2 linked regions of the Homo sapiens genome follow. The protein of the gene in region 1 purifies or fractionates together with the protein of each later gene. This does not show direct contact. Each region holds a gene or a part of one and is shown on either strand. Other genes may lie near its edges.

What was found. Proteins that work in one complex are often made in the same cells at the same time.
Region 2: the proteins of USP13 (region 1) and CYLD purify together in Homo sapiens (affinity purification with mass spectrometry; one large-scale study listed by BioGRID and IntAct). This does not show direct contact.

The regions. Positions count from the first base shown.
Region 1 is NC_000003.12:179,739,091-179,744,778, reverse strand, and holds part of USP13 (ubiquitin carboxyl-terminal hydrolase 13), read right to left. Parts: intron 4,533-5,688; coding exon 4,407-4,532; intron 2,583-4,406; coding exon 2,429-2,582; intron 1-2,428. UniProt on the Homo sapiens protein: Deubiquitinase that mediates deubiquitination of target proteins such as BECN1, MITF, SKP2 and USP10 and is involved in various processes such as autophagy, endoplasmic reticulum-associated degradation (ERAD), cell cycle progression or DNA damage response.
Region 2 is NC_000016.10:50,794,086-50,797,585, reverse strand, and holds part of CYLD (ubiquitin carboxyl-terminal hydrolase CYLD), read right to left. Parts: intron 3,375-3,500; coding exon 3,158-3,374; intron 1,263-3,157; coding exon 1,078-1,262; 3' UTR 1-1,077. UniProt on the Homo sapiens protein: Deubiquitinase that specifically cleaves 'Lys-63'- and linear 'Met-1'-linked polyubiquitin chains and is involved in NF-kappa-B activation and TNF-alpha-induced necroptosis.

The DNA of each region.
Region 1 (5,688 bases):
GCCTGGGTGGGTGAGAGGGCCAGACCATGTGTGTGATATAAATGCCCATGAACCTGGTTTGTCCAAAGGCCAATACTGGGATTATTCAAATGCCATCCTCCCAACACAAGGCCTTCGCATCAGAGTATTTCACAGCCAGAAAAGGTCCAAGGGCTCACGTCTTCCCAGTCCTTCACTGCCTTGCTGAAGAACTGAGGCCCAAAGTCAAAACCAGCCAATTATTGGCAAAGCTGGACTTAAAACTCTGATCAGCACTCCCTCCACAACCCAACAGATAAGGCCAGAAAGAGATGTTACATTGTGTAAGGGGATCAATTTTTGCCAATGATCACACACACATACACAAAAGTAACAAAAACATTCTTGTTAACTTTAAGCTGTTTTAAAATAAAATAACCAAAGGCAGAAAAAAACAAAACAAAACAAAAAAAAAAACAGAACCACCACTAAGCGCCTGGCAAGAGCCAGATCGAGTGTTACACATTTTCTGATTTGGTTCCACCAGCAACTATGATTAGAGGTCATGGGTCCCACATGGGTCCCTGTGAGGCCAAGGAGGAGGATAACTACAGGACTGCAGTTAGCCACCATCAAACAACCCATGACAGTAACCAACACTGCCGAGACAACTTCCTGTGGAGGTTACCCAACACCTCAGACATCAGGGCTACCAACCCAGAAGGCCTCTGTGCTATTCCTACTCAAATGATTAAATACTAAGGGAAAAAGAGGAACCTCCCAAGCACCAGCAGATCTGGTCCTGGAAACTAGCCTGTAGTCAAAATTTTATGTCAATTTGAATGGCCTTTCTGGTCATTTCTTTTGTATTACTCAAAAAAAAAAAAAAAAAAACTCCTTATTTATCAGTTTGTAGGTACACTTACGCACATATGTGTTTTCCTAAACACATCTTAGATGGTTTAAAATTCATTCCCCTGTCCCCAATCAGTTTATGATGTACTTATATCTAGGTTGCTAACATTAGGTGTTCCCAACAGTCAAATTCCAGAGACTAAATTATAAATCTCCTTTCTGAAAAAAAAAAGTAGTTATCACTAATAAATGATAAACAGAGTTAAAAAAAGATCATGGACATGAGCAGACACGTGAGTCAGTAACCCTGAGGCGGACAAGAGAAACCACTGCAGCCTAGTTCTAACAAGGAAACAAACAGCAGACTCCCATTCCCTTGTTTCTACACCAAAAGGATTTTGAAACTGATCAAAAACTGCATGAGCATATAGAAAATGAAAATCGTTTCATCTTAAATCATCATAATCATCACTTTCCAACTAACATCATAAACTGACCCACCACCCCCCACACACAAGAAAGAGCAAAAAGGGCCATCCAGGGAACCGCTGAATTTTTTTTTCTTTATTCTCAAAAAAAAAAACAAAAAACAAAAAAACTCCAGGATACATGTGTAGAACGTGCAGGTCTGTTACATAAGTATATGTGTGCCGTGGCGGTTTGCTGCACCTACTGACCTGTCCTCTAAGTTCTCTCCCCTTTCCCCCCACCCACCAACAGGCCTCAGTGTGTGATGTTCCCCTCCCTGTGTCCATATGTTCTCAATGTTCAACTCGCACTTATGAGTGAGAATATGCGGTGTTTGGTTTCTGTTCCTGTGTTAGTTTGCTGAGGATGAGGGCTTCCAGCTTCATCCATGTGCAAAGGACATGATCTCATTCCTTTTCATGGCTGCATAGTGGAATTGCTGAACTTTACAAAAATGACTAGTTCACAGGAGATGCACAATCCAGCAGCTATTTTGTCTTTTTTGCTTCTACGATGTTAATTCGAAGAAATGCCATTTGTCTATTCTGCCTAGGAAGAACCAGCTTAGACTGATGGAAGGAGAAGGCACCAAACATGAGTGCCACATCTCTGCCTCCTTCTCTCTTCCAAAGCCCAGAGACCCTTCTAATGGGCTTTGCTTCTACAAAGAACCCTGACACAATTTATCTCCCAGAAGAGGTGGCTCAAATACTCATGTGCCAAAGCTGGATTATTTCAAGAGACCTCTGCTCGAATGTCTAACTTTAAAAAATGCAGTCCTGATCATTTCCCTCAGACTTTATAGCACAACTTATAAATGACAGTGTTAAAGAATTTTCTACATACATCATTACCAATAATTTTCCCCAAAATTATGCTGACTCCATATTCAGTAGTTGGCCAAATTTATAGGCAGTGACGTAGGTTCCAACCATAACGCCTCCATAAAACCTGTGATGCATTTGATTCTTCTCAAAGGAAAAGTCACATGGGAACTAACAAAGAGATGAAAAGAGATGTGCAAAGCAGACATCACCTGGGCTGGGTCTACTCCTGACACACTTCAGTGACTAAACCATTCTCTCTGATTTGAGGGTTTTCCCATATGAAGACACACAGTACCAATTTCCCGCTTTGGAATTGTTACCCTTGTTGGTTGCCGCCTCCATGGCCACAGGTAACTGCATCAGGTAATCCACCCTCTCCGTGTAGCGGACTTTCCGGGTCTGACAGCACTGAATGCGTTCTTCCACCAAAAAACGAAAAACATCGCTTGGGTTTTCTGAGCCGATGCGGTTCCTCTGAAGGATGGATTGTATCAGGTTAGTAAATGTATGAATATTGAGCCACTAAGACTTAGTAGAAAATGAACTCTAAACCCGGTGTAAACACTTGGCTTTATTAAACATTTCCTCTGGCCATGCCCATTCACCAAAGCACTTTAATAGAAAAACACTGGAATTTATCTAAAGTCCAAAAATGGGGATTGGTAAAATAAAATATAGTTCATCATGGATTACTATTTCAATATTATTAAATTAAAAACCATGGGAGAGAAATTCATGGAATGAGAAGAAAGGAGGAGGAGAAGCCAATCAAAAGAGAAAGGGAAAAAAATAAAGGGCTGCCCTGGAAACATAAAAACATGTACAATATGATTATATAAATACACTCATGTAAATTAGGTACAAATAAAACAGAAATTATGCTCTGTTAACAGATGTGATGATGTGGCAAACATTTAAGTGAAAACACTGCTTACAGAAGAGCATGTAGAGAATTAACATAAGACCTGGAAAGTGATGGGAGGGGCAGATGCCAACCTGTGAACACTGGCTGTTGGCCGGGCACAGTGGCTCATGCCTGTAATCCCAGCACTTTGGGAGGCGGAGGCGGGTGGATCATCTGAGGTCAGGAGTTCGAGACCAGCCTGGCCAACATGGTGAAACCCCGTCTCTACTAAAAATACAAAAAAATTAGCCAGGCATGGTAGTGGGTGCCTATAATCCCAGCTACTCGGGAGGCTTTATTCTAAAAAAAAAAAGTTATCACTAATAAATGATAAACAGAGTTAGAAAAGATCATGGACCTGAGCAGACATGTGAATCAGTAACCCTGAGGCAGACAAGAGAAACCACTGCAGCCTAGTTCTAACAAGGAAACAAACAACAGAAGAATCACTTGAACCTGCAAGGCGGAGGTTGCAGTGGGCCAAGATCGTGCCACTGCACTCCAGCCTGGGCGACAAGAGCAAGACTCTGTCAAAAACAAACAAACAAAAACAAACAAACAAACAAACAAACAAAAAACACTGGCTGGCTGCAGGGCGTGGCATTAAGGGGGATTTTGATGTTCTCCTTTGTGTTTTCTATATTTTCCACAAAGAACACTGTTGTAACCAGGAAAAAAAAAAAAGGCTTTACTCAGGAATTCTCAGTGGCTTTCCAGCTCACACCTGTAATCCCAGCACTTTGGGAGGCCGAGGCGGGTGGATCACAAGGTCAGGAGTTCAAAACCAGCCTGACCAACATGGTGAAACCCCATCTCTACTAAAAATACAAAAATTAGCCGGGCGTGGTGGCAGGCTCCTATAATCCCAGCTACTCAGGAGGCTGAGGCAGTAGAATTGCTTGAACCCAGGAGGCAGAGGTTGCAGTGAGCCAAGATTGTGCCACTGCACTCTAGCCTGGGCAACAGAGCTAGACTCAGTCTCAAAAAAAAAAAAAAAGTTTTTAATGGCATTCGATTCTGATGTAAGCAGACTCATCATCTTTGAGCAGTGGCAGGAGGACACCAAATACCACGCAGGGCTCTTAAGGAACTTTGTCACAAAGACCAGAAAAAAATAAATTGTGAATGGAATAACTGGCAAGCACTCCTATAACACATACAGGTTAAAAGAAGCACAGAGATCCACAAGTGTCTGGAAACTGGAGTGTGAAGAGCAGTCACATCAAGTTGGCTGAGCAGAGAGTTTCCAGGGATCTGATTCTGAACCAGCTTTAACAGGAGAGATTGAAGAAAGAGAGTGGGGAGGCATTCTGATCAAGCCACAGCAGACTGCACTGAGTGGCTCGGCACCCTCTTACAACCCCGCTGAGCATCCGTGAAGACTGACTACTCACCTCTACTAGATTCACCAGGTGCAAGAAGAATTCCTGGGCATCTTGCTGCCTGTTAGAGGAGAATTCCGGGTGGCTCTTGCTTACAAAGGCCTTAAACATGCGCGGAGAGATCCCGTTCTGCTGTGGCTAATGTATAAAAATGAAATGGACTTATGATACTTTCATGCAAATTAACAGCCCTAAGCGGCAAGCAGAGCAGAACCCACCATAAACTCCACTTTCCAGATGAGAAAACTACAGCCCAAAGAAGGTAAATAATGATAGTGGCCAATACTCGCTGGGTGTTTACTATGTGCCAGGCCCTGCACTATGAACCTTATGAAGAACACAGGATGAGACTCTTCCTGTTTACTTAAAACTAGGACAATAGGTGACACACACTTTAGAAAGTACTCACTTTCTAAAGTCAGGCACTCGGCTCATTCTCACAGGACTTGCTACGCAGTGACCAAATGTCACAGCCCATTTCAAAGCAAGCTTGGGAGGAGAGGTTTCCGATGGAAGTTAAAAGAGAGGCCAGGTGTGTTGGCTCATGCCTGTAATCCTAGCATTTTGGGAGGCCGAGGCAGGTGGATCACCTGAGGTCAGGAGTTTGAGACCAGCCCGGCCAACATGGCGAAACCCTGTCTCTATTAAAAATACAAAAAATTAGCTGGGCATGGTGGCGTGTGCATGTAATCCCAGCTACTCAGGAGACTGAGGCAGGAAAATCGCTTGAACCCGGGAGGTGAAGGTTGCAGTGAGCCGAGATCACACCATTGCACTCCAGCCTGGGCGACAAGAGCAAAACTCCATCTCAATAAATAAATAAATGAATGAATAAATAAATGAGAGGAGAGCTCTGCAGCATCTCCCCTTCCCTTCCATGAGGGTATAGGAGAGGACCCCTCCTGAAGAATGGAGCACTTACAAGAAAGAAAAATGGCATTGCACGGCCCAGTGAAGCACTGCAGAGCTGCTCAAGCTCACGAGCCCACCCCATACTGTTTCTGGACCAGAGCACAGGGAGTTCCAGGAGCTTGTAGAGGGCTTGCCCCTCACCTGGCTGCAGCTGCTAGAAAGGCTGCGGGGGAAGAACAGGCAGCAGGGCAACTCTGGCAGGACGAGGATGCTGGATTTCGTGGGGGACCAGCAGGACAGCTCAGAAGGCAGCCAAATGCCCCATGCAGGACCCTACAGAAGTGGGCAGGCTATCTGCCAGTGGAGAAGGCTCAGGGCAGGAGGAGGTGACGGCTGCCGAGGCCAGCTGGACAGAGCATCAGGGAAAGGTCCTTGTAAGGTC
Region 2 (3,500 bases), on another chromosome or scaffold:
GCTGTTATTAAACAAAACATCCCATTTCTACTTACTTTAATCAGAAGGAGGATGAAGCTGCTGCTAACATTTCGATAACATATCTGATTCTATCAAGTGAAACTACACTGAATTTAATGGGAGTACTGGCTGACAGATCAAACTTAAGTTCTAGACAGTCTTGTCTAAAATAATAGAGGTTTAAATATCCATCTCTCCCAGGAAATTGTAATAATTCTATATGCCAAATTCATTTTCTTATGGACTGTATGTTTGTAAAGGACTATTATCACTCCAATTCTTTCATCAATTTACTTTGCCCCATTCCATAAAATATTAATAGTTAAAAGCCTTAAAAAACCTGTTAGCTGACAGTAACTACTATGAATGAAGAGCTTCAACTGCTAAATACCCTAATCCTCCAGGAAAATCACTTCAAAAATGGACATTTGGGGACAGAATCACTCATTTATCTCAAAACCAGAACAAATAGAAAACAACACCATTAAGGGAATTTAAGTATTTTTCTGACCACTATTGCAGAAACACAGAAAAACTGAGCAGATTGTAGACATGCAAGATCAGCAGTATATAGAAAGGATTAACAAATCAAACTCAGTACATCTCTAATAACTGGATTGAGAGTAGACTCTTAATAAAACCAAATTATTTCTTCCTCAAGGCAACCGTTAGCTACAAAAGAAAAATGATTTCATATCCTTGGTCCATAAAGAAGACACATTTATTTACATTCTCAATGGACTAAAAGAGGCTTTAAACTTCCACAATTAAAATTGTATGCTTCCAAAAATATCATATGATCAATGCACTTAACTTAAAGCTTCAGGTATTAATAACTTCATTTAGACTTCTTAAAAAACCAACACAAACATACTTTCTAGAGTGCAAAATGCTTCTTATTAAATACTTCAGGGACACAAAAGCAATTTGTTTTTAAACAGAGGCATCCTTTTCTGAAGGATCATCACCACAAAGACATCCATTGCCGGCAATGGACGTGAACAGAACTGCCAGCTCGAATAAGATGCAACGTTAGGACTCTGCCTTCAGTTTCTTTGCCTTTCCCGATGACCCCAGTTATTTGTACAAACTCATTGTTGGACTCTGGTACATGCACATATATGCATCACAAAGCAGTCTTCGTGCACAGCCTTGGATTCTCCTGGAGTCCAAGGAATGCAGGTCTTCCAGAGACATCTTCAAGTACTCTCCTACTTCTGGGCATGGGGTGACTTGAGGAATGTTGAAGCCATTCTGACCACCTATGGCACAGAGGAAGAACTCTTTATAGGGCAGTCAAGTTCTAAACCCTTTTGCCAGTGATTTTATAATCCTATCATTTCCAAAAAGCTAATTTCAGGCTCTAAAAGCCTTTATTTTACTTCTGATTTCTGGAAGTGAAAGCCTCCTTTAACCCTTGACATATTCTCATTTCTTGGTTTCTGAAAGGATTCTGGGGCCAACAGTGAATAAACCTGGTAAAAGGACACGAATTCTGAGGTAAGCCCCCAACCTACTTTCCAGACTTCTCTCTGAATCATATTATCAATACATATGTAGACGACACTCTGTTCCTCACATTTCATTTCCTCCCAGACACAAGCCACCCAGCACACTTCACCATAAGACTGTCCAATTTGGAATAGATCTAGTCAAATGAACGCTATTATAGCTCCCTACACTTTAAACACATCCTTACGCAACTCTAATACAGTTTGTTTGACACATCACCAGGCCCTGATGAAGGTGCTCTGGGGTGTGATTTCAGAGATTCCAGGAAAGGCTCCTCTGGGTTACCTCAGTGGCTTTTCCAAACCTATGCTGTTGTGTTACGCTGTTTAGTGCAAATGTTAACTGGGTTGGGGGCACATCTACAGATGGGGCTGGGATGTATCCCTCAAGCATCAGAGAACTGAGAAAAGGTGGAGAACTCTTGATCTAGGGCCTGGGCCTCTGTTCAAGAGGCTGCCACAGGGAATGTCTTAGGCTACTGGAGGGCCACACCAGAAGGCCGTGGGGGCTGGATCTGAGAGAGCAGCTAAAGGAAAAATAGGGTATAAGAATGGAGGAACATGAGAGTCACACCTCACAACCTTGCCCAGGCCTGGTCTTAACCTGCAAACTCCTTATAGGTAGAGGCAGGGCTGCTTTAACAAACATTTCTTACCTACAACCCACTATCCTGCCTGGCATTCATTAAGCATTAGTTAAATAATGATTAAGCATCCTAGAAAGTGGCCTGGCAACTGCAGCCTATTCCCCACTTCAGGGAGAAAGATACTACATGCAGAAGAGGCTTTACTTTTCTGAAAAGGATGTTTACTTCTGCTCTCAGCTTTTGGCAATTGGAAGATAACATGGTTTAGTACAAAAAAACATATGCACTGAGATCAGAAAGACTGAGTTAAACACAAACTACAATACCTCAAGCCCCTTAAACCTCAGCTTTAATAACAGAAAAACAGGAATAATCCCCATCTTGCCAGGATTTAGGTAGAATGACTTAATGGTGCTCAATAAACAGCTACCGTGGCTCCTACAAAAATGAGAGGGGCCTGAAAGAAGACAGCGAAGCTGGAAATAAGATCCCTCAGGGCTGAAATAAGAATTTTAGGATTCTTTTTTTTAAAAAAAGAGCATATGCATGTCAAAATATCACAATATGAGGCTGGGTGCACTGGCTCCTCTTGTAATCCCAGCACATCGAGAGGAAAAGGAGGGTTAATCACTTGAGGCCAGGAATTTGAGACCAGCTTGGGCAACATGGCAGAAGCCCATCTCTACTAAAAATACAAAAATTAGCCAGGCATGGTGGCATATGCGTGTAGTCCCAGCTACTCAGGAGGCTGAGGTGGGAGGATTGCTTGAACCTGAGAGGTGGAGGTTGCAATGAGCCAAGATCACGCTGCTGCACTCCAGCCTGGGTGACAGAGTGAGACTCCATCTCAAAAAAGGAAAAAAAAAAACACAGCATATTATTCCTTAGTTCAGCTAGCAAGGTTGTTAATGCAATCCAAGATATAAGACTGTTGTCACCAGAATAATCCTGAAAGGATTTTCTCAGAAAATATCACTCAGAACAGGCGATCCCACTACAAACTGTCCCACTACAAACCAGAACCCTGTGCCACATGCAGAAGAAAGGCGTTTTCAGTACCATCCCGATCGGCCATGCTGTCAAAGAAGAGCCAGGCAGAATCGTCCTTCCCATACTTCACAAAAGCAACATAGTGGCTTGTTTCTATGCAGAGAACAGCAAATAACTCCATATTCTGGCAAGGGATGCAGCCGTGTCTCCAGTCCCAGTCGGGTAAGTCTTTGGGAAGTGACACTGGGTTATATTTATGATTCAGCCTCTTCGGATGAAGGTGGACCTAAAATGGACCATGAAAAGAATGTCATTAGGCCGAGGCTGGTGGATCACGAGGTCAGGAGTTCAAGACCAGCCTGATCAAGATGGTGAAACCCTGTCTCTGTTAAAAATACAAAAATTAGCTGGG